Linked DNA regions of Homo sapiens: region 2 is linked to region 1. Evidence: fine-mapped expression QTL. A gene starts in region 1. The other region holds a variant in brackets. All regions are shown on one strand. Distances are from middle to middle. Region 1 holds the start of DNASE1 (deoxyribonuclease 1). Region 2 holds the start of SLX4 (SLX4 structure-specific endonuclease subunit).

What was found. PIP is the estimated chance that this variant, and not a neighbour inherited with it, causes the effect.
Region 2: its variant is fine-mapped to the expression of DNASE1 in whole blood (TOPMed, PIP 0.91).

What each region holds. Positions count from the first base shown.
Region 1 is chr16:3,653,389-3,656,289 of GRCh38, forward strand. It overlaps DNASE1 (deoxyribonuclease 1), which reads left to right and starts at 1,303. Exons shown (of 9, transcript NM_005223.4): 1 at 1,303-1,656; 2 at 1,985-2,132; 3 at 2,461-2,549; 4 at 2,714-2,797. The coding sequence starts at 1,986. It overlaps LOC124903631 (a long non-coding RNA gene), which reads right to left. Exons shown (of 2, transcript XR_007064954.1): 2 at 1-2,901. RefSeq lists enhancers at 1,480-2,007, 2,008-2,535.
Region 2 is chr16:3,610,168-3,613,068 of GRCh38, forward strand. SLX4 (SLX4 structure-specific endonuclease subunit) reads right to left here and starts at 1,439. Exons shown (of 15, transcript NM_032444.4): 1 at 1,393-1,439. It also overlaps a transcript of DNASE1 not described here. RefSeq lists a silencer at 1,297-1,646 and an enhancer at 1,687-1,756. The variant C/T (reference allele first, on the strand shown) is at 1,615.

The DNA of each region.
Region 1 (2,901 bases):
AATACGAATGGAAAGTCAAAGATTCCAAGAAATGAGTGGCGGGGTGCGGTGGCTCACACTTGTAATCCCAGCATTTGCGGGAAGATTGCTTGGGCTCAGGACTTGGAGACCTTGTGTCTGTGAGAAACTTAAAAAATAGGCTGGGTGCGATGGCTCACGCCTGTAATCCCAGCACTTTGGGAGGCCGAGGCAGGCGGATCACAAGGTCACGAGTTTGAGACCAGTGTGACCAACATGGTGAAACCCTGTCTCTACTAAAAATACAAAAATTAGCCGGGTGTGGTGGTGCGTGCCTGTAATCCCAGCTACTCGGGAGGCTGAGGCAGAAGAATTGCTTGAACCCAGGAAGCAGAGGTTGCAGTGAGCCGAGATAGTATTACTGCACTCCAGGCTGGGCAGCAGAGCAAGATTCCGCCTCAAAAAAAAAAAAAAAAAAAAAAAAAAAAAAAAAAACTGAGCATGGTAGCATGCACCTGTGGTCCTGGCTACGCCGGAGGATTGCCTGAAGCCAGGAGTTCAAGACCAGTCTGGACAAAAGAGCAAGACCCCATCTCTACCAAAAAAATTTAAAAATTAGCCAGGCATGGTGCCGTACCCATAGTCTTAGCTACTCAGGAGGCTGAGGAGGGAGGATTATCTGAGCCCTGGCGGTTGAGGCTATAATGAGCCATGATTGTGCCACTGCACTCCAGCCTTGGCAACACAGTGTGAGACCCTGTCTCAAAAACAATAAAAACCCAAAACAAAAGAACCAAGAAATTACTGGACCTGAGGCCTGGCCTTTAGCTGCTGCCCTGCCCTTGTGACCTGGTCACTCGGGATCCCCTGGGCCTAAACACACAGCCTATTGTCTACCTCAAGAAGGCTCCCCACTGCTTGGCTGGCAATTGGGGTGGGCTTTGCAGGCCCCACCTGTCCTGGCCCCACGGCGCTGGTGCTGCAGGCCCCCACCACTGCTTGTTCCGAGCTCCCCAGCCTCCTGCAGAGTTGCCTGCACCTGATGGCGATGAATCAGGAAGGCAGGCGTGTCCTGGGCCACAGAGCAGTCATGGCTGTCAGCCACCAGGGGGCTCCATTTGCAACTTTGGATGTGGCTTTGGCCTCTTTGTCCAAAGTGACCTTGGGGCCCCCAGACAAGAGACAGGGAGACTGGAGCCCAGCCCCACCCTCCCGCACATACCTGGCCCATCCCTGCCCTATCCTGGAAGATGGGGGCCACCACACGTGCAAGGGACACGGGATAGGAACCTTTGGCCTTGTTATCAGACATTTTAAAACTAAGTGCAAACGTGATTATCAGGTGCAGTTTTTACAGCAGCAAGAAACCTGTGCTTACAGAAAGAAACACGTGCTAGCAACCCACCTATGCGGAAAGCCACACAGAGCCATTGTTTTCTGCACTCTCAGGTGACGGCTCACATTTGCCCCAGGGAAGGTCACAGCTGCCTGAACTTTTAAAACTCCCAGACACGCACTGCCTGTGCAGGATCCGGAGCCCAGCAGCACTGCCAGGGCCTTGAAGTGCTTCTTCAGAGACCTTTCTTCATAGACTACTTTTTTTTCTTTAAGCAGCAAAAGGAGAAAATTGTCATCAAAGGATATTCCAGATTCTTGACAGCATTCTCGTCATCTCTGAGGACATCACCATCATCTCAGGTGAGCACCAGGTGGAGTGCCTCTGGGTGACTGGCCGGTTTGGAGCAGGGAGGGAGGCTTAGAGTCTCATCCTCCAGCAGCGAGTGAGGCGGAGGCTCCAGCGTCCCTCCCGGGCGGGTTTTCTGGTGGATGGAGGAGTGACTCGGGGTCCTCTACGTGGTGCCAGCTGTTTGGCTTTCTGGACGTTGTAGGAAAGGGTTTCCCCCGCCTGCGTCCCCCTGACCTTGAGCTCCACCAGCCCCTGCCAGCTGGGCTCCAGAAGGCTGGAGTGCTGTGGCAGGGATGACGTCTCACTTCTGTTATGTCTCTGTGCCCTGTGCTCTCCCAGGATGAGGGGCATGAAGCTGCTGGGGGCGCTGCTGGCACTGGCGGCCCTACTGCAGGGGGCCGTGTCCCTGAAGATCGCAGCCTTCAACATCCAGACATTTGGGGAGACCAAGATGTCCAATGCCACCCTCGTCAGCTACATTGTGCAGGTGAGGCCAGGGCAGCCTCCCCCCAAAAGCAGAGGAGCTCTGGAGTCTAGGGCTGGTGGGCAGGGCCAGCCCTATGGAGCCACAGGGTGTCGGGTGTGGGGTACTGAGCACCACTGCTCCCAGCACGGTGGAACAGGCTCTTGGCTGTGGACCAAGGTCCTCATCCCTGCTGTGCTGTCCCTGGCTGGCAGCAGGAGCCCAGGCAGAAACATGAGGCTGCGGTTAAACCGAGCAATGCCACGAGCATCAGCTGTGGCTCCCTTTGTGGCGCTGTAGGGTCCCTGGGTGGCACCAGCCCTGCTCAGCACCACTGTGGCCCTGCCCCCAGATCCTGAGCCGCTATGACATCGCCCTGGTCCAGGAGGTCAGAGACAGCCACCTGACTGCCGTGGGGAAGCTGCTGGACAACCTCAATCAGTGGGTGACAGTGGCAGGGTCATAGGAAGGTGACATCTCGTCCACGGCACAGCCTCACTTCACTTGGGCCCCAAGGGTGGGGACCTGGGCACAGCCTCGCTATCGGCAGCCAGAGGGGTCCCCTATGGCCCCCGCCACTGGGACCTTTTGTTTCTTCAATCCAGGGATGCACCAGACACCTATCACTACGTGGTCAGTGAGCCACTGGGACGGAACAGCTATAAGGAGCGCTACCTGTTCGTGTACAGGTGGGTGGTCTAGAAAGCCAGGAAGCCCCTCCCTCACCTGGGAGGGCCCCAACAGAGCAGGGAAGTAGTTTGTCCTATTAGTTTGTCCTATGGCAAGAACCTGA
Region 2 (2,901 bases), 43 kb before region 1:
GAAAGTTATTCCTTTCAAATACAATAATGCAATCTCCACTGTCCAAGGAATCTAATTAATCATTTTGTTTTCCAGAGCTGAAAATACTCCTACCTAGAATCTACTTTGTATGGCTGGCGCATTCTCTTCTGTGTCTTCCCCTTAGAGAAGTGTCCTCTAATCCTTTATGGACCGTCTCCATCCCCGTTAATCCCTATCATCGCCCACTGTTTTCACAATGGCATCTGTCATAGGTTATCATCATATGAAACAGGTAATATCTATCGAATGCTTACTGTGTGCCAAGCACTGTTCCAATTGCTTTCCAAGTCAAACTCGTTTAATCCTTACAAGAAGCCTATATGGTGGAATCTCTTGTCATCCTGTCTTTACGGCAAGGAAACACGCGCAAGCAGAATGAGGAACTGGCCTAAAGCCAGTTCAGGAACAGCTTTCACAGTGGCAGGGCTGGGATCAAACCCAGGAAGTGTGGTTCGAAACTATCCGCTCTTGTGTTTTTATTCATCGGCTTATTATCTGTCCCCCATTAAGCTCAACACTTCAGGAGGGTAGAGATCCATCTATTACTTTGCAACCTCTTTGGCTGATCTGGTGCCTGACTTGAAATAAGTGCTCCACAACTACTTGTTGAATTCATGAATTGCAAAGAGTTCGGTATAATGGGAGTAGAGAGAAAGGTGTAGGAGAAAACGCTGCGGGGAGAGGAAAGGATTGGCTCACAAGGGCCTGGAAGGTCAGGCTAGGCAAAGTGAATTTTATCCTGTTGGATGCGGGGAGCGGCTGGAACAAATTCCACCTCCACAACTGTGTTGATCTCCGCATCTCTGTTGATATGAACCTCACAACAGTCTATCTCCTCCTATAGGTGCCCAGTCAAGATTTACTGAATGACATAACGGATCCTGCAAGCCTGCAGGTTTCCAGAGGGAAGGGGACTTGTGCCTCCTTGCTTCGTACCTACCGCAGCCCACGGCTCACAGCAGGCGAGGGATGAATGAATGGATCGGTAAGGGGCGGACCCTCCCGCTTCCCCCAACCCGGCGACCTACGGAAAGGGGCTGAGGGGTTCCCCGTCTGGGAAAAGGGCTGCCAAAGACTCTAACGGCTCTAAAGTCAGACGGAGAACCCCGATCCCCGGACTGGCCCGGACGGAGACCACCGTGGGGATCCGGATCCGCCACCCTCCTCCCTCCAGGCGGGCCCCGGCCCCTCTCCACCCGAGTGCGGCTCCTGCCTCTCCGTCGGGGCTGCGGGCCTGCCGAGGCCACGGAGCCAGCGAGGGAGACGGGCGAGAAAGGCTCTTCTCCCTTAGGAAAGAGAGAACGGCCCGAAATGACAGGACCTCCGCCTCCCGGGTGCCGACTCCCAGCCCCACAGCCCGGCTCCTCCTACCTCCGGCGCCGCCGCGGCACCTTCTTAACGGAGACTCGCGCGCCTGCGCATGCGCCGCCCGCGCCCCCGCGGAGCATTGCCTGCGCGCAGGCGCAGAGCGGGCGCGCGCGGTGGTGCGGCAGCCTCGCTTCCGGTCTTCCTCTGCGGCGCCGGGCGCGGGCCCGCGGCGGCCAGCGCTTCCGGTCGGCAGGAGGCGGGGCGAGGCGGAAGCGGCGCTTGCTT[C/T]AGGTGGAGTCTGTTAGTTTTTGAGAAAGAGTTAGGGCGAGTTTAAGGCACTGTGGCAGCTGTGAGATAAAGTCTGGTTCCTCCCCAGCTGGCTCAGGAAATGTTCGCGGATACAACGGCGGCCCCCTCTGGGCATACCTGCCTGTGGAGCGGAGAGTGGACGGTGTGAGGGGGACCGGGAGAGGCACCAAATCTGGCCTGGGGGCCCGAGAAGCTTCCTCTCAGGTGGGGTGGCGTGAGAGTCGAGGCCTGGAGGTCGGGGAGGGTTAGCTACGTGAAGAGGGGATTCTGCCGCGCTTCAGGTGCCTGGAGGGGATGCCCGAGCTCTTCCGCAGGGCTAGGGTGAAGCCAGCCAGGGCCTGGGGGAAAGGTAGCAGAGGTTTGCCATGGCTTGGTATTTGAGGGACTTTACACATCGTATTAAGGGTTTGAGCTTCAACTTGGGGTCGTCGGGAGCCATTGAAGGTTTTTTGTTGTTTGTTTTTTGAGACGGGGTTTTGCTCTTGTTGCCCAGGCTGGGGTGCAGTGGCGCGATCTCGGCTCACTGCAACCTCTGTCTCCCGGGTTCGAGCGGTTCTTGTGCCTCACCTTCCCAAGTAGCTGGGATTACAGGCGCCAGTCACCACGCCCAGCTAATTTTTGTGTTTTTAGTAGAGACTAGGTTTCACTCTGTTGCCCAGGCTGGTCTCCAACTCCTGACCTCAGGTGATCCGCCCGCCTCGGCCTCCCAAAGTGGTGGGATTACAGGCGTGAGCCACCGCTCACGGCTTTTTTTTTTTTTTTTTTTAAGTAGAGACGGGCGGTGGGGGCGGGGGGGGGAGTCTCACTATGTTGCCCAGGCTGGTCTCGAGCCCTGGCCGCAAGAGATCCTCCCGCCTCGGCCTCCCAAAGCGCTGAGATTACAGGCGTGAGCCACCACGCCCGGCGTAAGATTTTGTTTTTAAAGGCCTAATTACAGTGAGAACAGATGAGGCAAGGACACCCATTAGGAGGCTATTACATAATCTAGATGAAAAGTGAGAGCGGCCCGAATTAGGAGGTGGAGCGAAAAGAATGGAGAAATATGGAGCATAGTCAAGACGCAGTTGTTAACGATTTGCCGGTTTCTGGCCTTAACATCTGAGAGTAGTGTGCCTCCAGTCACTGAAATAATGAACACAGGAGAGGTGTAAAGGAATCAGTTTGCAGGGCAGACAATATGTTTTTTAAAAGATACAGTATCATAAAATGCACACTAGAAGTGTACATTCAGTGGTTTCCAGTACGTTCACAGGATTTGCAGCCATC